Homo sapiens: one gene and its partners. The protein of the gene in region 1 purifies or fractionates together with the protein of each later gene. This does not show direct contact. Each region holds a gene or a part of one and is shown in the gene's direction. Other genes may lie near its edges.

Region 1 (4,396 bases):
TTGAACATATTCAGGGCTTCAAAAGATTGATCTGTCATGCACCGTCTGCCATGATACTGTGTGAGGATGTGTTCTTCTTCTTAAACATTAAATCAAGAAAGAATCAACAGTGGACCCAGTAAATAGCAGATCAGCCTAGGATAAGATGCCCTAGAAGATGGTGAAGGGAAGTCTCAGAACTACTGTTCTTCAGCAGGCAGCGAAGACACCTGATCCATATTGGAGTGGTGGGATGCGAGCTTCAGGAAGGGATGCCACAAGGAAAAGTGGAAGGGATGATGACTGTCTTCAAGAGGTTACAGGTCTTTAAGAATTTACACGTGAATTGGAGATAAATACAGAGAAAATGAAACACATCAGTAATTCAGTAGTTACCAAGCCCAGAAAGACCAAGTCATACCATGTAGTAAATATAACCAAGGTGCACCAAGGCATTCAACTGTGACTAGTATTAATGGCGTAAAAAGTAATGCCAGCGCTGGAGACTGGCTTAACAACAACAAACACCACTTCATCAGGAGGATGGGTCGGGGCAGGTGCTATGTAAGTGGTAAAACAGCTGTTTGTATCCTTCACTGAAGAATTTATTAGATTTTTATCTAAAATTATGAAGTAGGCCAGGCACGATGGCCCACTCCTGTAATCCCATCACTTTGGGAGGCTGTGGCGGGCGGATCACTTGAGGTCAAGAGTTCGAGACGAGCCTGGCCAACGTGGTGAAACCCTGTCTCTACTACAAATACAAAAATTAGCCAAGTGTGGTGGTGGGTGCCTGTAATCCCAGCTACTTGGGAAGCTGAGGCAGGAGAATTGCTTGAACCCAGGAAGCAGAGGTTGCAGTGAGCCGAGATCATGCCACTGCACTCCATTCTGGGTGACAGAGCTGGACACCCTCTCAAAAAAAAAAAGTAAATAAAATTATGAAAAGCATGTTATTTAGAAATAGGCTAAATACCAGAAGAAGCTGCTGTGTGAGTCAAAAGTGACTCCTTCCAGAACTTGGGAATGGGAGGAGGAAGGGGAGAGAGACAGCTCCAGAGGAGTCAGTTACATGGCTTCCTCCCAGGCCACTCCTAGAGTCGTGCACTAGGTGTGCCCTAGTTACAAACCTTGTCCTGTCAGTATTTGACTTTTTAAATGATGCATACGTATTGCTTTGATAAAAACAGAAACAAAGATTGTTCTGAAATTAGTAACATCCGTAACTTCAAAGATGATTATTACAGGTGACAAAGGTAATCAAAAGTTATTTTAAACTTTTGTCTTTAAGCATTGAAATGATATTACTGTCTGTCACGACAATCTTTTCAATTTGGAATTCTTCTTTTTTTCTTTTTTTCAGTTTGTATGCCAGAAGAAGGGTTTAAAGGTAAGTTACATTTGTCATGTTTTGTTCATGAATGTCAGAGTCATCCTGTAATTTTCTGTTAAAGCGAAGGCTATAATTTGATTTTAAATTTTAATCCAATCTGAGTCTCATGACTGAAATTAATTTTAGTTAAATGCATTTCTTACTCAAGCTTCTTCATTATCTTTTTCAACACTCAGGCCTCAAATGGGGCCTCAGCTGGGGCTTTTGTGTTAGAACTGTTTCTTGCCAGATGTCCATTTGGCCTTCCCTTTCTCATTTTATGGGAGGTTGGGAAATTAGCTAGTGGCATTTCAAGATTTATTTTTAACCTTTTCCCAGTTCTTCCTATCAAGTCCCCTCCTAGAGCAAAACAGTGTGTAACTATTAAGAATTAGTGGCACAAGAATTTGTCAGGTTTTATCAAGTCCAGTGAAAAGATTTAATTAATCACTTAGCATTAAGGCATTTGTTGGATTATTACTTCAAGAGGAGACACGGTGGTGCTCGTACTACATCTGGGCCATGTAGTTGTGCACACCGATAATATTCAAGAAGTCATCAAATACAGACCTCTGACGTTTTCGGATTTTCCTGTTGCTGTCTTGATTCTTTGCTGGCCACTCCAGAAGCCCCTGGCAGGTTGTGATTTTCTAAGGAATGACTTTGAATCACATACCAGCTATTCCTTGCTAAAGCAAATGAGAGACAAATCTACTGGCCAAAATAAAGTCTTCCTCTTGCTGCAGCTGTGTTGTCTGCATGCTACCATTACAAAGGGACTCCTGATGGGGTCAAAACAAAGCAAAAAACGTCTTTATGAAAAATGGTCATTGGCCGGGCATGGTGGCTCACGCCTGTAATCCCAGCACTTTTGGAGGTTGAGACGGGTGGGTCACTTGAGGTCAGGAGTTCGAGACCAGTCTGGCCAACATGGTGAAACCCCATCTCTACTAAAAATACAAAAATTAGCCGGGCATGGTGGCGTGCGCCTGTAATCTCAGCTACTTGGGAGGCTGAGGCAGGAGAATGCTTGAACCTGGGAGATAAGGTTGCAGTGAGCCAGGATTGCACCACTGCACTCCAGCCTGGGCGACAAGAGTGAAACTCTCAGAAAAGAAGAATGGTCATTAAATGAAAGAATCAATAAAATCTGGTTAGTTTGTGTGAAGATACACTTAGGAAGCACATGGCTTTCAACAAAAATGTGATTTAGCGGAGAGCCTGGAGTCTGCTGGTATTTTGTCTTATCCTCCCACACCAAGGTGCGACTGTGTTCATTTATTAAATTTGATGCTCCCTGTTGATGATGTGTTCTTGGTAAATGGAATCCATGAACTTTTAATCTGTAGTTCACAACTATCCCTCCACGTGTGTTTCTTTTCCCAGGTACTGGTCTTCTTGGACATTAATCTTTGAATACTTGCTGACTGCTAAGAAATGACCAGAGGGGAAGAGGAGTTTGACATGTTAGGGCATTAAAGCAAAGGTGGATTTAAGAATTAAACCATTACATGCCCCTTCCAAAAGGCAGAAATCCATTCAAACGTGACTGTCCCAAATGCCTTATGTCAAATAAAGCAGATTGCACTGATGGACATCAGACTTGAAGGAAATGTTTCCAATTTTATATTTAAGGGGGGTGGTGGGTGGGAGGGGGCAAGTAAAGACGGAACAAGTTTAGTAGCAGTAATAGTAAATCATGTTTACATATGAGATTTATAGTCGTGGGAGGGGAATAAAGTTCTGTTATATTTCCTTGCTCGAGTTTCATACCAGATGCGTTGGTCCATAAAGGATTGTATCAAGTAGATGGGACAACATTCTGCTCTGAACGAAAAGTAATTTTAGAGACATAACCTGCTTACCAATGCCTGTCTTTGATTCATATTCTACTTTCAATAAAGCATGAAAGTGAAGAACTTGTCCTAAGTGTGGAAAAGTGTCTTCAGATTTAGACTCTTCTCCATGTCAGCTGCAGCGCCACCCGCCTTACACCTGCCCGGCCGTCTGTCTCTTGGTATTGGGTAAAGGAGGGGGCACCTGCATGTCTCCTGCAATGAGCAAGGAATTATGTCTCATGTTTTGACTTCAGAGGCTTTTTGCTTTGGTGCATTTCAGAAAGGATGGAGAACATTTATTATGTGTGAAAGCATCCTCTTCCGGTTTTGCTGTTATTCAAAAGTGGGAAATGTACCTGGCACGTTTGAAAATAAAAAATCTGACTACCTATCAGAAGAGTAAATCAGACTGAAGTACATTTGGATAACACAAGGTTTCTATAAAATTTGTTCTTCCTGTCCTCCATGTCACTGTTTCTTGGACCTCAGTTCTCTTTTTGAAAGCATTATTCCAAAATGCCCTGAGAGGGTCTCTTAGATCATTGTTTAAAAAAGGAAAAAAGTATATGGATGTGCTGTCCATCCAACTCAGGATTATCATTCTTAGCAACACGTAACCGAAGCAATATTCTTAAGAATATTGAAGGGGTTTTTTTAATTGAACTTAAGACTGGAGTTTTTCCTTTGAAAAAAAAAAAAAAGTTTTCTCTGTTGAGTCCGTCTGTGTAAGTTTGTGGCTGAGATGCTAGCTTAGGCATCTCTCTTGTTAACACTTTTCTTGGCCTTGGGTTTGTGCAAGGCTTTTTCCCCCTTTCATGAAAATGTGAACTCAGATCATGGATGGGGAAGGCAGATTTTGATTTGAGACCCGATAACCTTGGCAGCATCCCTTTTGAATAGCTCCTTTTGTCAGAGTAATTACGGCCATTTGGTAAAATTCTAACTTCGTGTTTGTGTTTCCCCTCTGTGTTTCTAATGTCTTCAGTCTGTGTCCCCTGAGGAGGCAGGGGGTCTCTAATGAGCCTATCTATGGGGGAAGGTGAGAGCTGCACACAGCCCCCTGAGAAACCATCCTAGGAGTGGAACCAAGGGACCAACTGTTCTGGCCTTGAGGTTGGCACAGGGGAAGGACTTGAAGTTGAGCTGATGGATCCTGATTTTTAGATCTCATTGTTTTATTAGCTCCAAAGAAATGAATGCAGGAGCC
Region 2 (7,044 bases), on another chromosome or scaffold:
CACAATATTTTAATAGAGGCTTAAGTGACAAGAAGTCAGCTATTCCGAGATTTTAAGAAAGAACATTCTAAGCAGAAGAAATAGGTAAAAACTCTGAAATGAGAGCAAGCTTGCCTTCTTGCGAAACAGCAAACAAGTCAGTGTGGCTTGAAGATAGTAAGCGAAAACGGAGACTGGTGGGAGTTGAAATTGGAGAGATAATTGGGAGACAGGACACATTGGCCCTCTCAAGCATAGTGAGGTGTTTGAATTTTGTTTTAAGAGTAAAGGAAATCCACTGAAGGGTAGTCCAAATTCAGGGAATAATTTCTGACTGCATTTTAAGATATTTAGACTGTTTTATGGAGAATAAAGGGGAAGGGCAATACTGGAAATAAGGAGACTAGCTAGGTCTTTGAAATAGCCCAGGTGAAATGTGATGATGGTTTGGCTTGAGATTGTACTGATTGAAATAGTAAGAAATGATCAGGTTTGAGATATCTTATGAAGGTAGAGCTAACAGGTCTCAGATGGAGAAAACTGGGGAATGATTTAAGCAAGAAGATCCCTAGATTTCAGGCCCAACCCAGTAAATGATGGTAGCGGAAAATGAGTTAGGAAAGACAGGAAGAATAGATTAAGCAGGGGTAATTGAATTCTCTTTGGAGTTTGTTATGTTTGTGATACCAGTTAAGACATCAGAATAGTTATTGTTTTGGCAGTTGTATACAATCTGGAGGTCAGAGGAAAGATCACACGTGGAGAAATAAGTTTCAATATAATCAATATATATTCATCAATAGGATTGAATGAGTTTATCTGGGAAGACTGTATATATAGAGAAAGTTCATGGTACAGAATTGCTGAAATACAGATCCATTAGAATATATGTACCAAACAGGCGGGCACAGTGGCCCACGCCTGTAATCCTAGCACTTTGGGACGCTGAGGCGGGTGGATCTCTTGAGGTCAGTAGTTCAAGACCAGCCTGGCCAACATGGTAAAACCCCATCTCTACTAAAATTACAAAATTAATTGGATGTGGTGGTGTGCACTTGTAGTCCCAGCCACTTGGGAGGCTGAGGCATGAAAATCGTCTGAAACCAGGAGGTGGACGTTGCAGTAAGCCAAGATCGTGCCTCTGCACTCCAGTCTCGGTAACAGAGTGAGACTCCCATCTCAAAAAAGAAAACAAACAAACAAACAACAACAACAACAAAATATATATATATGTATTTATGTACCAGTGATAAAACAACACCTGAGATCTGAGAATAAAAGATGATGAGCTCTGTAATCTTAAAATTTACACAGGATAGAACAAGCAATCCGATAATTTAATTTCAGGCCATTTAAAAAATATAAGTAAAGTGGTTGTTAATAAAATATATGTTTGGTTTGTGAAAACCTTTAGTAACTGGTGAATCTGATCACACAAGTAATCAAATATTACATTATAAAATGTGAATATTTAATAACCATGTTTTTTTTTCCAGCACAAATAAAAATTTGCCCATTATGTCAACAGCATCTGTGGAAATCGATGATGCATTGTATAGGTAAGAATCTCATAGAAACTGAAACTTATTTTCCCCATTAATTGTTCTCAAATAATCAAGTAGTCTCTTTGAAGATACCATTCAGCCTATGCAGAATTATATGTGTGTGTGTGTGTGTGTGTGTGTATGTATATATGTATGTGTGTATATATATGTGTGTGTATATATGTGTATATATGTATATGTATATATATGTGTATATGTGTATATATATGTGTGTATATATGTATATGTGTGTGTATATATACACACATATATATAAAGAGTTCCTCTCAAGTTAAAATTAGGGTTTCTGTGATTTTTTTTATCTACATTCGGATAATATTTAAATCTCAGTTGTTTTAGGTTTAGGTGATAGGACTAAGAAGGATTTTGCTGCCCTTGCAAAATAACCCTTTCATTTTTGGACAATAATACGTATTTAAGTTCTTGATAGTGCAGGAGTTGATGAAGAATAATATTTCACTTTAGTCATACAATAACATCTAGAGAATATTACTTCATTGTAATCTCATTAAAATATTTCCTGTTCTGTAATTTATAGACAGTGGAGAAATACTGTGTGATTGAAGAGTTGTAATTTGAATGGAATTTGATGGGACTTTTAAAACTATGCTTTTTCAGGAAATTGGAATACTTTTTTAGTAATTAAAGTATTGTATGATTGAATAGTTGTGATTTGAATGAAATTTGATGAGACTTTTTAAACTATACTTTTTCATGAAATTTGAATACTTTTTAAAGTAAAGAAAAAGATGCAGAGTCAATAATGGGCACTTTATTAGGAGCTAATACATACCATCTGGCATGTTGAGTCCAAATCCTGTTTTGTACTCTATGCTTGGGAAAAGAGATAGAAGACTAACAATCTTGCTCATGTGAAAATTATTTTAAAGATGATTTCTTGATTATAAAATATGGTTTAGAAGTCACCTTAAGTTGTTGTATAAGGGTTAACTGAATTAGTACATTTAAAGCACTTAAAACAGTGTGTAGCACAGGGTTATCTATTATTATTAAATGCCTGGTACTGTTTTAGGTATTTGGATTACAGTAGTGAGTTTTTAAGACCATACATTTTTTTGATAGGAGTGGCAGACAAACAGTTAATGGTAAGTGATTTGAAGAAACTATGACAGGTTAATGAGTTAGGCAGTGACCTAAGGATAAGAGTAGCCATTTTATTGATAGGGTGATCAGAAATGATGTGTGTGATATTTGTAATACAATATTTTAATAGAGGCTTAAGTGATAAGAAGTCAACTATTTCAAGATTTTTAAGAAAGAACATTCTAAGCAGAAGAAATAGTGTAAAATCTCTGAAATGAGAGCAAGCTTGCCTTCTTGCAAAACAGCAAGCAGGTCAGTGTGGCTTGAAGATAATAAGCAAAAAGGGAGAGTGGGACTCTTACGTTGGGATTCTTAATCTATAATTATATTCTTAATGTCCTTTTGGTCATGTTTTTCTTGGTTTAACAAATGGCACCTCTTTGAGATAGTATTGACTAATTTTATTCATTTTTTAGTTTAATCCTTGTGAAACTTTTTTAATGTCCCTCCAACCCTATAATGCTGATAAACATAATTTTCAGTAGGCCAGTGACTAAACTTTCCATTTACAATGCTACGTAAGTAGGCTGCAGTTTGCTTTACTGAGAGTTATAGAATATAGCAGTTTAGCTGTTATTATTAGAGGTAAGCCATTTTCTTTTGTTTGACGGAGAGTATCTTTTGGTGTAGCTGTTAGCACTTGGTATGCGTGTCTTATTGCAAACATCTAGTTGTTTACCAATGTGCATATTTGAGTTTTAATATCTTCCTTAAGAATTTGTCATAGTGAGGGCAGGAAGCCAGAAATTTATGTGGGTACTAAAAGAGTGAATTATTAGGGAATACTAAAAGAGTTACTGACTACATATAGGTTTTCTTAGTAGAAATACAAAGATGTGGCCAGGCACAGTGGCTCATGCCTGTAATCCCAGCACTTTGGGAGGCCGAGGCGGGTGGATCACGAGGTCAGGAGATCGAGACCATCCTGGCTAACACAGTGAAACCCCGTCTCTACTAAAAATACAAAAAATTAGCCGGGTGTGGTGGCGGTGGCGGGCGCCTGTAATCCCAGCTAGTCGGGAGGCTGAGGCAGGAGAATGGCATGAACCGGGGAGGCAGAGCTTGCAGTGAGCTGAGATGGCACCACTGTGTTCCAGCCTGGGCTACAGAGCAAAACTCCATGTCAAGAAAAAAAAAAAAAGAAATACAAAGACCAAAATGCCAAAATGTGAGATTTTCACACAATAACCAGCTCTTATTTTCTTAGATTTTAAAAATTAACTTAAATGTTTGAGGGTTTTTTTTTTTATAGTGACTGAATCTGAAGATTTGGTAGTTTTGTATTTTTTCTTTTTTTTTTTTTTTTTTTTTTTTTTTTTGAGATGGAGTCTTGCTCTGTCATCCAGGCTGGAGTGCAGTGGCGCGATCTCGGCTCATGGCAACCTCCGCCTCTTGGGTTCAAGCAATTCTCCTGCCTCAGCCTCCTGAGTAGCTGGGACTACAGGCATGCACCACCACACCCAGCTAATTTTTGTATTTTTTTTAGTAGAGGCGGGGTTTCACCATGTTGGCCAGGATGATCTCAGTCTCTTGACCTCATGATCTGCCCACCTTGGCTTCCCAAAGTGCTGGGATTACAGGCGCGAGCCACCGTGCCCAGCTGTATTTTCTCTTTTTAAAAATCTGTATCTGTTGCTTATGGGGACTAGTATAAGACCTAGGACTTTGGACAATGATTTATTTTAGGGACAAGGCATGAAATGAGGATCCTTAGCCTCTTAATATCTCAGGGAGATAGATTTCATCAGTAAGCTTGATGAAGGTAGGGTAAGATAAAGATAAATTCCAGAAGTTCTCTTTTCTCTCCGTTCTCTTTCACACAGCCACAGTTCCGACCATTTTGTCTCATAGTACAAGTCCAAATACTATAGCTTACCGAGTTATTTTGAACATAACTCCAACTTACCTTCTAAAAAGTTATTATTGTAGTAAAAACACATAACATGAACTCTACCCTACTAACAAGTTTTTAAGTGTGTAGTATAGTATAGTTGACACTTGAACAATGAAGGAGTTAGGAGTGCCAACTCCCCTACCACCCTACCTCTTGTGCAGTCGAAAATCCACATATGACTTTTGACTCTCCCAAAGCTTAAATGCTAATAGCCTTACTATTGACTGGAAATTTTACTGATAATGTAAATAATCAATTAACACACATTTTTAATATTATATGTATTATATACTGTATATATATATATACACAGTATTCTTAGAATAAAGTAAGCTAGAGAAAATAAAATGTTAAGAAAATCATGTAAGAAAGAGAAAATATATTTATTGTTCATTAGATGGAACTGGATTATCATAAAGGTCTTCATCTTTGTTGTCTTCATGTTGAGTAGGCTGAGGAGGAGGAAGGGGAGGAGTTGGTTTTGTTGTCTTAGGGGTGGCAGAATCAAAAGAGGTGGAGGCAGAAGGGTAGGGAAAGAGAGGCAGGCACACACAGTGTAACTATGGAAATATGTAACTACTATGTGACTTTTTTTGCTTTCTCATTTCTGGAAAAATGTTTCTATACAATACTGATCCTCCTGTCATTTTCTTTAGTTTCTTTTTGGTGCCCCTGTTGTAGAAGGGTCCATGTCATTAAAGAAATCAATGCAATCTTGAATCGTCGGAACCCTTCTGCCAGATTGTCTGATGTCAGTAACAACGATAGCATCTTCAATGGTATAATCTTCCAGACTTTAATGATGTTCTCTTTCTTGGGGTTCTCTTCCATAGCATTGACAATCCTTTCTATAGAGTACCTTGTGTAATGAGCCTTAAAGGTCCTTTATGATGCCCTGATCTAGAAGCTGAATTTGAGATGTTGTGTTTTGAAGCAAGTAAACCACTTCAGCACCTTCATTGTTGAACTTTGGGGTTCTGGGTGGCCAGGTGTATTGTCCAATAGCAAAAGAACTTTAAAAGTTCTTGCTGGCAAGGTACTTCCTGACCTCAGAATCAAAGCATCAATGGAACCAATCCAGAAAAAGGGTTCTTGTCCAGGCCTGCTTGTTATGTAGCCGGAGGACTGGCCGCTGGTGTTTATCTTTTCCCTCCAATGCTCAGGGGTTAGCAGCTTTATATGTAAGGGCAGTCCTGATCATAAACCTGAAAGCATTTGCAGAAAACAGTAGAGTTAACTATCCATTTCTGCCTTAAATCCTGGTGCTTGCTTCTCTTCCTTACTAATAAATGTCCTTTGTGGCAATTTTTTTCAAAATAGAGCACTTTCTTCTACATTAAAAACCTATTCAGGTAGATATCCTTTCTCTTCAGTGATTTTCCTTATGGCGTCTAGAAACTCATTGCTGCCTCTTGATCGGCAGAAGCTGCTTCTCATGTTGTGTCTGACTTTTTTTTAAGACAAACCTCTTTCTAAAGTTATCAAACTATCCTTTGCTGGCATTAAATTCTACAGCTTTACTGCTTGGGTGATGGGTGCACCAAAATCGCACAAATCACCACTAAAGAACTTAAGTAACCAAACACCACCTGTGTACCCCAGTAACCTATGGAAAAAAAAGAATTCTACAGCTTTATATCCTTTACCTTCTTTTTGCTTTAAGTGGTCTTATAATGACTTCGCTTTTTCTCAAATCATGTTAGAGTCTATGACTTTCTTTCAGCAATCCTGCACCCATATCAGTGCTGCATTTTCAATATAAGATAAAAAAATCTTTCACAAAAAGTGTAAGGTTTTCATACTTGCTGGTGTAGTTACAATGATGGCTTTTCTTTTTTTTTTTTACAATGGTCCTTCCACTGGATTCATTTTATCTTGAAATGTCAGGCAACCATAGCTGCAGACCTCAGTCTACAGTACATAATCAAGCAATTCAACTTTTTATTGTAATGTCATGACTTTTCTCAGCTTCTTGGGAGCACTTGCAACATTACTGGTGGCACTTTGTATGGGTCCCATGATGTCATTCAAGGTTTACAGTATTGCACATTAAACATGATGAAAAAATATGCAAGAATCTCAAGACATCACTTTTTCCTGCAATATTCAATTTACTGGAGAGAGGAACTGCTCAGGCAAAGATGAATAGAGTCACATGTGCTTTAACCAGATACATCACTTAAGCTCACCACAATAGCAACTGGAAGTAGCTACAAAATTATTACAGTAGTGCAGTATGTACTACAGTGACTTTTATGCACTTATGACTGAATACTGCATCTTTACATCTGTTTACATTCCTCTTAACTGCAAATGGCGACATCTATGGTCTGTAAGTGTACGCATAGTTTTGATAAATTTTAACTTTTTATAATTTGTGTATATTTTATGGTAGTAAATGATAAAATAGACTAATATGTACATAGATTTCATGCATTCATGACATTTTCTTAATTTTTGGGTATTTCTAGGCTACAAAGTTCATCCGTGAGTTTTTTTCAA
Region 3 (7,000 bases), on another chromosome or scaffold:
GATTCAAGCATTGACACTGACTAAAGAGAAGGTCCCGTTAGAGCGAAATGCTGGATCCCCAGTGTATATGAAAGGTGTCACTAAGTCTGGGATTCCAATTTCCTGGTACCGAGATCTGCACGATGTTCCAAAAGGTAATTACCTTTATGTGGATTAATGAAAGAATTTTGATCACAACCCTCACAGTATTGATGGGACTGTAACTTTTTACAGCAATATAATAGATTGAGTTACTGCTGCCAAGTCCCTTATCCATAGAGAGTAGCCTACTTTTTTCTAGAAAAGAGCATCTTAATAGAAAATAAAGTTGCCTGACATTAAGTAGTAGTTTATTTCATGAAGCTTTGTAAAATCCCAAACAAAATGTAAATCTCCTTTGTACTTTTGAGTATTTCCCTATAGCTAGGGTTGTACCGATGACGGAGCAGCCCAAGGCAGCTGGGGCTGATGGAAGCAGTGTTAGTAGGTGGGTTTAGTTCAGTTATAGAGTCTTTTAAAAAATCCTTACTTGCCTAAAGACAAGCAAGGTGTGGGGGAAAATCCCTGTACTAGTCAGGAATACTGACTAGTATTGACTAGTTTGAGTCTTGACTCAAAGCCAAAGTGGGGGTACGATCTTGGGTAAGGGATCTCAAGCCATTCCTGCCTCAGCCTTCTCAGGCTGAGAAGCCCGATTTTATGAAATCAAATTCCCTTCCAGCTAACAACTCTGACTTCTAATTTCTTTCAAGCCTTGTGATGAATAAAAGCTTTAACTGCTATTTCAGGTATTTCCATTTTCTGACCCCATTTATGTGTAAAATAAGAATAGTAATAATTGTTCTATGTTCTGCAGTGTAAGTTTTCCATGAAGAGGTAGATAATTCTGTGGTAGTGATGATTATGGAGGAAGTAGGCATTTTTTTTACAGTTAATATTCAAAAGAATTAATTCCTGTGAAATGTGGAAACATTAATTGTTTTCCTCTTTTTAAATAGGGTACAGCTTTTATCTTGCACATGAATTTTTTGATGTTCTTCCTGTGCATAAATTTCAGGTATTGAGGGGGGAAAAAAGTCATGTCTATAATTGAATACAAAAGGCATTGTGTTGCCAATGTTTATGGTATTTATTCAGTATACAAATTTTACTTGTTGAGGTTATTTTTAACTATTATTTGGAATTTTGGTACACAAATAATTCAAAAGCAAAAAATGAAATATTAATGAGAATTGTTAGTTCTCCTGGGATAATTATTAAGAATTCTTAATTCTTCTGATTTGAAGAAGTAAGGGAATGAAAAATGGTAAGATGGTAACTGGCTGTGGTGCAATGAAGGATTTACTTAAGCAAAAAAAAAATTTTCTTTTTTAAGAGATAGGGTATTGCTATGTTGCCCAGGCTGGTCTTGAACTCCAGGGCTCAAGTGTTCATCCTGCCTCAGCATCCCAAGGAGCTGGGACTACAGGTGTGCGCCACTGCACCCAGCCAACCTTAGCACATTTTAAAAAATTATAGATTAAACTTTTTTGGGCCAGGCATGGTGGCTTACACCTGTAATCTCAGCACTTTGGGAGGGCGAGGTGGGTGAATCACTTGAGGTCAGGAGTTCAAGACCAGCCTGGCCAACATGACAAAACCCTGTGTCTACTAAAAATAGAAAAATTATCTGGGCTTGGTGGCACGTGCCTGTACTTCCCAGCTACTAGGGAGGCTGAGGCATGAGAATCACTTGAACCCAGGAGGCAGAGGTTGCAGTGAGCTGAGATTGCACCACTGCACTCCAGCCTGGGCAACAAAGCGAGAGCTTGTCTCAAAAAAAAAATAATAAAACTTTTCTTCATTCTTTCTGTGAGGAGATTTAAGATTTGGTGATAATGTATATGTACTGGTAATTTGTGAGGAGAAGAGCAGCTCTCATGATCCTGTAGTAATTTGTTAGTAAAGCTTCTGGCTGTTCTTCCTGAGTCTATTTCCGTTTTTGGGGTACTTTCCATGCTGCTGATTTTATCTTCCACAGCGTCATCTCTGTTATTGTTTCTTTTGCATCGATTGGTCTACTCATTGTTCAAAGGCAATGAAGTAATGAATTTAAGTAATTTTAAATAGTAAGTTCTCTGTAAATGTTAGTTACTTATGGTAAGAGGAGAAAAAGCTATTTTTGGTAGAAGCAATGTAGAGAACAAACTTGCAAAAATTTGTTTTTATGTGTTATTTTGTGTTTAGAAAACACCACAGGGATGGCGAGAAGTATTTGTTGACATTGATCCACAGGTTTCTGATAAACTGAGGTTTGTTTTGGCACCTTCTGCCACCCCAGCAGAAGCCTTCATACAAGTAAGAATATGCTTTTTTAAGTTTCTTTTATTGCTCACAGAATCTTCAAAGTCTTATTTTCTGAGTTACTACTTTAGAGTTTTAGAGTTCCTTTACAGGAAGAGTTGCTAGTAGCATACGAGGTGCTTTTTATTGACAGTGAAAGTGCAGAGGAGCTAGAGGCAGGAGCATGGGTTAAAATCATTTCTTAAGTGTGTGACCTTAACGTCATGTAGTAAGAGAAAGTAAGTAACCGCTTACTCAGCCAAGTCTCTTACTTTCACTGCTTATCTCAGTTTCATGTCAAATGGTAATGGTATTGTCCACAGGAAGAGTTTACATCTGTGAAAGCAATGTAGTACAGACTATAGTAAATTAACAATAACAGCTAACGTTTGTTGAGTACTTTGTGTTACTCTGTTTTCTCATTTAATTCTCAAAGCAACTATATTAGGTAGGTTCTATTATTATCCTTCTTTGGGCTACAGCATGGCTTTTATCCCATGCTTCCACACAGATCTCAGTTTGATTCGGCCAGAATGGTAGAATTACTACTGCTTTCTGTTGATCTCAAGGAATCATTGCAAGAGCCTGTCTATTGTGGCTTGTTTAAAGGTACAAAAAAATCCCTGTACTTCTCAGGAACGTCCAGGCTTCAGACTGCCTCTTTTTTTTTAATCCTTTTTTTCCAGCTCAGAAGATGATTTTTACTTTCTGGACCTTAACTGAGAACTTCTTACTTAGAAATTATCAGTTTTAAAAGCACAAGAGCTTTTAAACTTAAATGTATGAATTAAGTTTTGTTAAGTATAAATTTAAATGTCAGACTGAACACTTATGAACACCTGTTTTTTCATAGTATAGCAATCTAAGTTTACCTGAATGACATATTCATAGAACTACCAAGAACTAACCTCCTGGCCCTGGGAGTTCATTTAGTTCTTGACCTAATTAGTATTCACTTAGGAAGGGAGGGAGCGAATATTCTCTTTCACTTGAATGAGATGCGTGGTAATACATGTCATCTTGAAGAGTAGCCTAAGATAGAATGTCAGCATGATCAGCGTGTCCACTGATGCCTGATGAGGCTGACTTCATGGTTTTTATAGTTAAGCCACAGTAATTTGATTGCACTATTAGCTAAATGGTTAGTTATATTTAATCCTCACAATAAACCTACAATATCTATAAGGAAGAAAACAACTCAGAAAGTTTAAGTAACTTGTCTACCAGTAAGCATAGGAAGAGCTGAGATTTAACTTCATCTGACTCTATGCCTGTTACCATAGGCAGACATCAGGGCAGGTCATTACTGCATTTCTATAATAAGGTGTTAGGAAGGAGTACAAGTTAATGTATGTTTTCATAATGAAGGGAAAGAAATACCACATTTTCAATCAGATCAGGAAGTAGTGAAATTTCATATATACTAGTCAGGTTGACAAGTGTTAATACTTAGTGTGATTTTGCTTTTTAAGCTAGTACACACTTATTGTGGCCCCTTAGTTAAGTGGACATCTTGGGGTAATAACGGTTTCAATACATTGGCACTAGTTTATAAGCCAGCGTTTCTTGATGTAGGGCATATCATTGGGATACTTTCTGGCACAACAGAGGGCATGATAATATAATTGTCTAATAGGGTCTGCTTCGTGTTATTGGATTTATACCATTTGTTCTTTCAGCACAATATTTTCATTGACTGTTATGTGCCTGGCACTGTTCTAGGCAGACAAAAAAAATCCCTTTCCCATGCTTTCAACCTAGAGGAATGTGTTTATATGATTTGTGATACAAAAGTAATTTTACATTAAATGATAATGCTCTAGGCCATCTGGGGGGATTGGGAGGGCATTTGCCTTTTTATAAAAGAGATTAAAATGTCTTTGTATATCAAGTGGGATAGCATCAAAGAACTAAGGAGTTTTGTATAATAAAAAGGGAGTCAGGTGAAAAGTTGAGTGTAGAGAACATACTCATATTAAGAATTTATTTTTATTAAAACTAAGAAATGCTCATTGAGGAAAAACCTGAAAAACCGTAAGGAAGTCATTCTTTTGAATGATGCATTTTGACTCTTGCAATGATCCCTTTACTAGCATGACGAAACAAGGGATCATGTTGAAGTGTGTCCTGATGCTGGTGTTATCATCGAGGAACTTTCTCAACGCATTGCATTAACTGGAGGTGCTGCACTGGTTGCTGATTATGGTCATGATGGAACAAAGACAGATACCTTCAGAGTATGTATAATTCAGTAACATGATTTATCAGAATTTCAGTGTTAGATCTGAAGCCCATTGAAGAGCTTTGATTTCTACAGTGCCTGGTATTGTTGTATTACATTATTTTATAGTTAACATTAATTCATGTTATTGTAATTCCCCTTAACCCTAGTTCTTACTGCTAACACTGAGTCTACTGTCCAGCCCTCCTTTAACAGGATCTGAATTGTGTACATTCTTCCTTAGTTGTAGAACCTATGTTTATATAAATCCAGATAAGCAGCTGAATAATACAAATGGAAAGATTTTCTTCACATTCTTAAACCTATCTGTAACCCCCTTCATTCAAGAAAAATTTTGGTACTTCTTTACAGATTTAAACTACCTACTGTAATCATTCTAGCTTTTTCTATCATATTTTCAACATTTTTTCCCTTTCCAGATGTATTCTTTTACACTGTTCCTAAACATCCTTTCTTAATGATCTTTGAATATAATCAATTCTATTCAATATACTTTAATTGAAAAACATTTAACTAAATGCTCTTAGTCATTTTCTAGGTCTGTGGTTCTTAATTTCTAACTTTATCTAAAAATAACCTGGATAGTTTGTTGAAAATACTCATTCTCTAGCCTTACCTCCAGGATTCTGACTGACCAGGTCTGGTTAGGGTCAGTAATATATTCTCAGGTGATTTTTTTTTAAGTAATTTCAACTTTTATTTTAGATTTAGGGGGTACATGAGGCAGGTTTGTTATTTGTTACATGGGTATATTGCATTGACTCTGAGGTTTGGGGTACGAGTGAGCCTGTCACCCAGGTGGCAAGCATAGTACTCAGTAGATAGATTTTCAGCCCTTGTTCCCCTCCTCCTGTCTCCCCTCTAGTAGTCACCAGTGTTTGTTCCCATAAGTATGTTCACGTGTACCCAGTGTTTAGCTCTAAGTGAGATGTACATGTGGTATTTGGTTTTGTCCCTGCATTAATTCACTTAGGATAATGGCCTCCAGCTATGTCTACGTTGCTGAAAAGGACGTGATTTCATTTTTTTTTATGGCTGTGTAGTAGTTTGTAGTGTATCTCAGGTGATTCTGATGCATGGTTGATGCATATACTTTGTAAAACACTGCCTAGGTGTTCCCTGCCTAGAGAATTAATGAGAGCTCTATTCCGTCACCTCAAGCATTAATGTAAATATTAAATAACTTTAATATGATAGCATTTCTTTAATCTTAATAACCATAAAAGGGCAAAAATCTGATTTCTTTATGTTCAAGGGGTTTTGCGACCACAAGCTTCATGATGTCTTAATTGCCCCAGGAACAGCAGATCTAACAGCTGATGTGGACTTCAGTTATTTGCGAAGAATGGCACAGGGAAAAGTAGCCTCTCTGGGCCCAATAAAACAACACACATTTTTAAAAAATATGGGTATTGATGTCCGGCTGAAGGTAAGGTTTATTTTATTTCACTGTTATTAAGTACTTTCATAGTATTTCAAAAATTACTTTAAATAGTATGTTCACCTGGCCTTAATGCTCTTGTAGTTAGCCAATCCTTGGTATTCCAGTCTTTTCAGGTAGTATAGGATTTAGTAACTAGTCTGGTAAGTTTTATGCATCTCCATGGGAGGTAGCATTAAGACTTCCAAATAGTGTTTTTGTTTGTTAAGAAAACTGCGTTTATGGGTATGAATTTTCTAACTGTTCTTCTGAGAACACCTAAACCTTACTGTAGATCAAACCCCCTGAGGATATTTGTTAAAAATGCAAATCCTTAGGTTTGTTTCACACCAATCTACATTTTTAATAAGTACTCTATGATTCTCAGGCAGGTAATCAGAAGTCACATTTTGAGTGCTGTTTTATTGGAATATTTGAGAGTCATTAGTATTGCTGCATGTAACTAGGAATCCTGTCTTCTGGTTATTTTTGCTAAGAATTTTTTTCTTTTCAGGTTCTTTTAGATAAATCAAATGAGCCATCAGTGAGGCAGCAGTTACTTCAAGGATATGATATGTTAATGAATCCAAAGAAGATGGGAGAGAGATTTAACTTTTTTGCCTTGCTACCTCATCAGAGACTTCAAGGTGGAAGATATCAGAGGAATGCACGTCAGTCAAAACCCTTTGCATCCGTTGTAGCTGGGTTTAGTGAACTTGCTTGGCAGTGATATTTCAGCTTGGACATTTTACCCTTCAGTCGGCCCAAGAAATCAAAATAAAGGAAACACATTTCATATACTGCAGGTAACAAAAGTCAAAGTATTTTATCTTTTCACAGCAAGAACAGTCCATGTTGTATATAATACAACCAACATTATAGAACTTTTAGGGTTGTGACTGGCTTTGGTGCAAATGTGTGCTCAAGCTAATAAGTTATTGTGAAACTGAGTTTCCTTTAACTTACAAAGCTAGTTGCCATATTTCTATTTTATTTTAAAAAGTAAACATGCGGCTGGGCGTGGTGGCTCATGCCTG
Region 4 (7,044 bases), on another chromosome or scaffold:
TCGCCAAACACTTTGCCGACGCACGCATTGTGGGCACTGGTGAGGGGCCCCTACAGAGGGTACAGGGGGAGGGGGATGGGATGGCACCTCTGGTCGGCTTTCTTCTATGAAAAATGTGGCCAGGTGGGCATGAAGTATGGGTCCAGGGCTCATGCCAAGCCCCTGCTGAGGCACGGTGTGTCCCCGCAGACATCCGAGACTCACTGATGCAGGCCCTGGCCAGCTACGTGTGCTACCCACACTCCCTGCGGGCTGTGGAGCGAATCCCCGAGGAGCAGTGAGTGGGGCCTGGGGGGCACACACCCTGGCCACAAGCACCATGCCCAGCCTCACCCCGTCTCTCCCCTCCTTGCCCTCACAGGCGTATCGCCATGGTGAGGAACCTCCTGGCGCCCTATGAGCAGCGGCCCTGGGCCCAGACCAACTGGATCCTGGTGCGGCTCTGGAGGGTAAGCCTGACTCGAGGGGAAGTGGCTGAGGCTGGCTGGAGGGAGAGGGTGCGCTGTCCCATTGACCTGGGCACTGACCCCCACCTCCACAGGGCTGTGGCTTCGGGTACCGCTATACACGGCTGCCACATCTGCTGAAAACCAAACTTGAGGACGCCAATTTGCCCAGCCTCCAGAGTGAGTATCTGGGTTGGGCGAGTCCTGGGCAAGGCAGGCGGGGGCGCTTACCTCCTACCCATGGGTTCTTTCAGACTCTCCACTTCTTCCAGCCCCTCTCTGGTTCCCCCATTGGGTCCCAGACTCCCTACGTGTCCCCTGGGGTTTCCACTTTCCCTGCTTCCTTCCAGCCCAAGGATACTCGGGATGGGACTCCCCCTCCCCAGCCTTGCCCACAGTCTTACCTACATGTGCCCTTTGGGCCTGGATGCTCTATGTGGGTCATGGTGAGAGGCGGCACCATGTTCCTGGCCTGCTACAGCTCATGCAGACTGAATACTCTGTCCCTTGCCCTTTAAGCTAGCTCCCTGACCTCCAGCCTTGTCCCAGCACCATGTCCTTCTGCTTCTTTTTTGCTATCTGCTGGTGGCAGACCCTGGCCTTGGCTTAGGCCTTGGACACCTGAGTCCACTGGGAGCACAGATTGGAGGTTGGCCAGGTCCCCAGAGGGTATTCACGAGAGTTCCTGGAGGAAGGGACATTTAGTTGGGAGCAGAGGCTGTGCCCTCTCTCCAGGGTCCAGCAAGGACTTTCCCCTAGGCCTGGCCCTTGCAGAGTGCCAGGTGTGCCACACACTGTCCTCACCCTTCATGGTGGCTCTTCTTGGCTCATGTAGTCTGTTTCTGCCCTTGTGGGCAGTGTTTTGGTCCAAAGGGTGTCCCCAGAGAGGCTGAGTGTCTTCTGCTAAGTCACACAGCAAGTCCTTGCCAATTGCCGTGGTCCTGCGTCCAGGGCGGAACTGAGCTGCAAGTGGAGAGCGGCAGTGGGGCCAGGCCTGTCCTGCTGCTGCGGGAACTATTGATTTGTATCAAGCTGGTGGGGAGGTGCGCCAGGCCCGTTGCAGCTGAGGGCTCCGGTTACTGCTGCCTGCCAGCCCAGACTTGGTGCCCACCACCTCGGCCATATGCCAAGGCCAGGCCAAGGGCAGCAGAGGACAGTAGAGGACAGCAGGTTTGCAGCAGGGCTTAGAGTAGGCTCTTGGAGGAGCTGGCCTTGGTGCCGGTGGGGAAGCATCTAAGCCGCCCTGTTTAGGTCTGACCCTATCTGAAGGGTGTGCGACCCAGAACTTGCTGAGGGTCAGGCTGTGGCTGTGTGGCTGCTCTGGACCTGGAGTGGATGGTGTGGTGTCAGGGCTGGACACAGCTGCAGCCTGGGGCTTGCCTAGTAGAAGGAGGGGACAGATTCTGTCCCAACTAACTCCAAGGCAGCTGTCCTCTGTCCCCTGCTTTCATGACCTGAGCATTCCTAGGGAGCCATCTTTCTGTCCTTATACCAAAGCCTCAATGGGCGAGGACAGAGGCAAACAGGCAGAGGCCACTGCAGTGGAGTCCCTGATGATGCCGCCTCCTGTCCCCCTGCAGAGCCCTGCCCTTCCACCCTGCTGCAGCAGCACATGGCGGACCTCCTACAGCAGGGTCCTGATGTGGCACCCAGCTTCCTCAACAGCGTCCTCAATCAGCTCAACTGGGCCTTCTCTGAATTCATTGGCATGATCCAAGAGGTGGGCTGTGGTGGGGCCTCGTGGGTTAGGGTGGTGCAAGGGATGAGGCCTGGTCCTGGGCTAGAGCCAGGTGCTGACCACTGCATGCCCACGTGTTGGTGGCTCAGATCCAGCAGGCTGCTGAGCGCCTGGAGCGGAACTTTGTGGACAGCCGGCAGCTCAAGGTATGTGCCACCTGCTTTGACCTCTCGGTCAGCCTGCTGCGTGTCTTGGAGATGACTATCACACTGGTGCCTGAGATATTCCTTGACTGGACCCGGCCTACCTCTGAGATGCTGCTGCGGCGTCTTGCACAGGTGTGGCCATCTGGGCAACAAGGGTGGGACCCTGGGGATGCCCCATTGATGACGCTCCCCATCCACCAATGGACTCCTGCTCCCCTCACAGCTGCTAAACCAGGTGCTGAACCGGGTGACAGCTGAGAGGAACCTGTTTGATCGTGTGGTCACCCTACGGCTGCCTGGTGAGGACCTAGATGCCCTGCACCCCAACACACTACAGGCCTCGGTTCCTCTGCTAGGAACAGTGAGGCCTGATTCCACATTCTGCCCCCGGACAGCCAGACTTGGTGCTCTGCAGTCTCGGCTCACCCTTCTGTAGAGAGGGCAGTGGGCAGGCCTGGAGCCCTTGAAGCAGGAGCATGTGGGTGGCTCATCTCTTTCCTCCCCTTCCCCTCAGGCCTAGAGAGCGTGGACCACTATCCCATTCTGGTGGCAGTGACGGGCATCCTGGTGCAGCTCCTGGTGCGTGGCCCAGCCTCAGAGTGAGTGTTGGGGACCGTGGGCCCCTGTGGGAGTTGGGTGTGTCTGGTGAGGAGGGGCTGGACAGGGCCTCCTGGTACTTCAGTTTCCTCATCTGGAAAATGGACCTCAGCATCAGGTTTTGAGGCAGAGGGAAGGTGGTGAGGTGTGAACGGCCTAAATAGGGGGCAGACGGAGCTGCTCTAAGTAGGAGAATCTGGGACCCCAGCAGGACAGGTGGCCCTGGCCCACAGAGCCACTGGCTTGTGGCCATGCCTCAGGCCAGGCATGGGAGGCAGGACTCCGGAGGGTGTGCCGTCCTGTGGTGGACAGGGCCAGGCCGCCAGGAGAGCTGAACACACGGAGGACCGCCATTGTCTGCAAAGGCTCTAGCAATAAGCATGTGCTACCTTTATTAAACTCTGGAGCAGCGAGGTCCAGGATGGCCATGGGGGCCCCCAGCTCGGCCCCCACACATGAAGGGCTCCCAGACCCCCCTTCCCTGCCCCCCTGCAGTGGGAGCAGTGAGATGCATATGAAGCCAGGGTACCGCCTCAGCCATTAGGCTGAGACCAGTGCCAGCCCTTAAGAGGCTCCTGCTCTCGAGGGACGTGGAGTTCCGGCTCGGCCCTCCCAGCTCGGCCATGCTCGCCAGGCTTTTCGGGCTTTTTACTGCTGAAAAGCAGGGGTGCAGGCCATGATCCCCTTCACTGTGTCTTGTGAGCCCACAGAATGGGCTCTGCCTTCAGAACAACGGGTGGATGCCCCAGGCCAGAGAGAGCAGGGCCTCTGGCTGGGGCTTAGGCCAGACCACCAGGAACCTCTTGAGGAGCCTTTCCTGCCTGGTGCCTGCCCACCGGACTCTGCGTGAAGTTGTGAAGCTTTCAGGAGGTTGGGTGTTGGTGGATGGAGGGAGTCCCATTTCACCAGAGGGCGGGCTTGTTTCCTCTTTCTGTCCTGGGGTGTGGGCGAGATCTTCCTTCAGAGCCGCCTTCTTTTCCCTGTGGGCCCACTCCCTCCCACCCCCTTGGGAAGGGGAGGTGGCCCTGCGTCAGCTCTTGAGCACCACTCCTCGAGAGCTGTCTCAGCCCCTGAGGGTGGACGGGAGGCTCTGCTACAGGGGTTCTTCCACAGGCTGTAGAAGAACACAGCCACTTCCACAGCTGTGCTGTGTTGAAAGCCACAGGGGCCTGGGTCTCTCAGCCTCACAGGGCATTTGGGCACTAGGAAGTCCGCGGGAAAGCAGGAACTAGCACACCTTGCAGGGCCTGGGGCCTTTGGGTCCTGTGCAGGGGCAGAGCAGAAGGCAGGTTGGGGACCACAACCCCTGTCTCTACCAGTGAGCGAGAAGGCCCATTGTGTTTCGAGGCCCATACAGGAAGCTGGGGGGCCAGGCACAGTGCTTCCCACCAGTATCTGCCAGTTCTCTGGACCGAAGCAGGGAGCAGGGCGAGCAGCAAGAGGGTGGGGGCCTGGGTGGGGGAGCCCTGGGCAGTCTAGGTTGTCATGGGACCCTCGGAGCCTATGGAGCTGGCGGACTCAGAGCCAGCCTTCAGCTGCAGGCCTCCAGGGTTGTAGAGATCGAATTCCTCAGCTACTGCCAGCTGCACGCGGCCATTGAGGCCCCTCCGGCCTGGCTCCAGAAAGACTACGTGCTTGTGGACGCTGGCCTTGCGGCTGGGTGCGTCTGGCGGTGTGGTGCTGAGTACTGAGGACTGTGCGCTCAGCTCTTGGAGCGGGCTGGGTGTTTGGGGCCAGCGGCGGCAGCGGCAGGCACGGCGGCAGCAGCGGCAGGGTGGGGCGAACAGGTAGAGCAGCACGAGCACAAGGCCCACGGCACAGCCCAGCAGTGTGGTGAAGCCTGTGTTGAAAGCCTCGGGCTCTGGGCGCGGAAAGTGCACGCTCACGTTGTACTCGTGCGTCTGGTTGTGGTGCAGGCGGGGCCCAGTGGCCAGGCACACGAAGAGTCCCGCATGCTGCTCCTGTACGTTGCCTATGGCCAAGCTGCCGTCGGCCAGCACCGCGATGCTGCCATCGCGGGATCCTGGCGCCCTGAGAAGCTCCTGCTGCGGCGAAACCCAGGCAATGCGCATGGCCGGGACGCTGGTGTTGCAGTAAAGCCTCAGGGACCGACCCACCAGCGCGTACAGGTGCTCTTCCGGCCGCTCTAGGCCAAGAGCTGGGGCCGACGAGCAGTTCTCAAAGACGCGGCTGTGCTGGAAGAAGCGCACGCGGGACGCGGGTACCTTGAAGGCCAAGCATACGTACTCGCGCGCAAAGTCGCGCACGGCGCTCAGGCCCCGCTGGTGCCAGCGCTGTAGCAGGTGGTAGAGGCGGCAGTCGCAAGGCAAAGGGTTGTTGTGCAAGTAGAGGCCGTTCTTGAGGAAGGCCGGCAGCGCGGCCAGCTCAGGTACGGAGATGTGTCCCAGCCGGTTGGAGGAGAGGTCCAGAGTAAGCAGGTGGGTGGCGCTCAGACCGTGCAGGTGGTCGAAGGAGAACGAGGCGAGTTCGTTGCAGCCCAGGTAGAGATGGCTGAGCGCGCGCAGGCCGTGGAAGGCATGCTCGTCCAAGTGCACCAAGCGGTTATTGAACAGAAGCAGCTTCTCCAGCGCCCCCAGCCCGTCGAGGTCGTGGCGGCCAAGCGCCCGCAACGTGTTAGATGATAGATCGAGCAGCCTCAGGCCGCTGGCGTTGACGAAGACGCCGCGACCCAGCGCATCTAGTTCGTTGTGGTCTAGGTGCAGGGCGCGCAGCTGGAAGAGGGGCGCCAACCAGCCGGGGCGCAGGCGCTGGAGCGCGTTGTGGCTCAGGTCGAGGTCCGCAGTAGCGGCAGGTAACTCGGCTGGCACGTCCTGCAGCCCTAGGCCAGTGCAGCTTAGCAGGTCGGCAGCGCAGATACATTTGTAGGGGCAGTTGTGGAGCGCACGGGGCGGGAAACCCTCGGAGTCCGGGGTGCCTAACCCAACGCGCAGCATGCAGAGCAGTGTCCCCAGCAGCACCAACCAGGTCATGGCGGCGACCACCAGGGACAGTACAGAGCAGCTCTGTGCAGGTTGCAGTTCCAGGACTCACCCTCTTCTGCTCTAGTGCGACATGGGTGGCACCGGATGGCCCTTGCCGAGGAGGCACGGCGGGTTCTTGCCAGCCGACGGCCCCTACTCTCCGGTTCCCAGGTTGTGAGGCGGTGCGGCACTCTTAGCCGCGCTCCCTTCGGCTTCGCTAGCCCTCTCCAAGCGAGTTCCTGATCGGCTCCTAAATACTCCCCCCAGGGGCGGGGCCCGGGCTCCTATTGGTTCCCGTTTGAGGAGGCGGGGCGGCTACATCCCTTTGTGCCCAATGGCCCCGCATGACCGCCAGATGGGGAGCAAGGCCAACCCCAAAGTCCCCGTCAGCCTTTGGCTGGCAGCTCTCCGCCGCTCGTTTTTCCTCGGGGAGTAAAAGGGGGAGTCTGGAAGAATGTCTCCAAGCTGCTGTTAGTGTTTATTTGAAGTGACTTTGAAGGACTGATAATATTATGGGGCAGGCAGACTCTCACTATCTTAAGGTGGTTCGCCTGAGCCTTCTTAAAGTGGTACCCCAGGCCGGGCGCGGTGGCTCACGCCTGTAATCCCAGCACTTTGGGAAGCCAAGGCAGGTGGATCACCTGAGGTCAGGAATTCGAGACCAGCCTGGCCAACCTGGTGAAACCCTGTCTCTACTAAAAATACAACAATTAGCCGGGCGTGGTGGTGGGCGTCTGCAATTCCAGCTACTCGGGAGGCTAAAGCAGGAGAATCACTTGAACCCGGGAGGTGGAGGTTGCAGTGAGCCGAGATCGTGCCATCGCACTCCAGCCTGGGCAACAGAGCGAGACTCGTCTCAAGAAAAAAAAAAAAAAAACAGGCTGTGTGGCACCTTACTAGAATACAGGACTTGGGGTTTGGGAAGCAGGGAGACGGAAAGGATGCAGGGGGGGTGATCATGTACGAGCCATGGCACTCCTCATTGGCAATCCCAAGAGAGACTTTTAGCCAGGCCCCAAGCCTTCTGACTGCCCTTGCACCCTCCCCTACCTAGGAGAGAGCAAGCCACATCAGTGCTCCTGGCAGATCCCTGCTTCCAGCTACGCTCAATATGCTATCTCCTGGGACAGCCAGAG

Evidence for each region.
Region 2: the proteins of USP48 (region 1) and UBA6 fractionate together in Homo sapiens (co-fractionation; 3 studies listed by BioGRID, with this or other methods). This does not show direct contact.
Region 3: the proteins of USP48 (region 1) and NDUFAF7 purify together in Homo sapiens (affinity purification with mass spectrometry; 3 studies listed by BioGRID and IntAct, with this or other methods). This does not show direct contact.
Region 4: the proteins of USP48 (region 1) and RNF123 purify together in Homo sapiens (affinity purification with mass spectrometry; 3 studies listed by BioGRID and IntAct, with this or other methods). This does not show direct contact.

What each region holds. Positions count from the first base shown.
Region 1 is NC_000001.11:21,677,781-21,682,176, reverse strand, and holds the end of USP48 (ubiquitin carboxyl-terminal hydrolase 48), read left to right. Parts: intron 1-1,342; coding exon 1,343-1,369; intron 1,370-2,737; coding exon 2,738-2,760; 3' UTR 2,761-3,879; downstream 3,880-4,396.
Region 2 is NC_000004.12:67,691,139-67,698,182, reverse strand, and holds part of UBA6 (ubiquitin-like modifier-activating enzyme 6), read left to right. Parts: intron 1-1,475; coding exon 1,476-1,538; intron 1,539-7,044. UniProt on the Homo sapiens protein: Activates ubiquitin by first adenylating its C-terminal glycine residue with ATP, and thereafter linking this residue to the side chain of a cysteine residue in E1, yielding a ubiquitin-E1 thioester and free AMP.
Region 3 is NC_000002.12:37,241,658-37,248,657, forward strand, and holds part of NDUFAF7 (protein arginine methyltransferase NDUFAF7, mitochondrial), read left to right. Parts: coding exon 1-134; exon of another isoform or gene 135-767; intron 768-977; coding exon 978-1,036; intron 1,037-2,205; coding exon 2,206-2,316; intron 2,317-4,394; coding exon 4,395-4,538; intron 4,539-5,798; coding exon 5,799-5,972; intron 5,973-6,477; coding exon 6,478-6,693; 3' UTR 6,694-7,000. UniProt on the Homo sapiens protein: Arginine methyltransferase involved in the assembly or stability of mitochondrial NADH:ubiquinone oxidoreductase complex (complex I).
Region 4 is NC_000003.12:49,713,549-49,720,592, forward strand, and holds part of RNF123 (E3 ubiquitin-protein ligase RNF123), read left to right. Parts: coding exon 1-39; intron 40-189; coding exon 190-277; intron 278-361; coding exon 362-449; intron 450-541; coding exon 542-626; intron 627-2,026; coding exon 2,027-2,166; intron 2,167-2,273; coding exon 2,274-2,462; intron 2,463-2,553; coding exon 2,554-2,629; intron 2,630-2,844; coding exon 2,845-2,929; intron 2,930-3,280; exon of another isoform or gene 3,281-4,402; coding exon of another isoform or gene 4,403-5,917; exon of another isoform or gene 5,918-6,136; intron 6,137-6,367; exon of another isoform or gene 6,368-6,962; coding exon 6,963-7,044. Other genes in the region: AMIGO3 (amphoterin-induced protein 3 precursor), read right to left, coding at 4,403-5,917. UniProt on the Homo sapiens protein: Catalytic subunit of the KPC complex that acts as E3 ubiquitin-protein ligase. Promotes the ubiquitination and proteasome-mediated degradation of CDKN1B which is the cyclin-dependent kinase inhibitor at the G0-G1 transition of the cell cycle.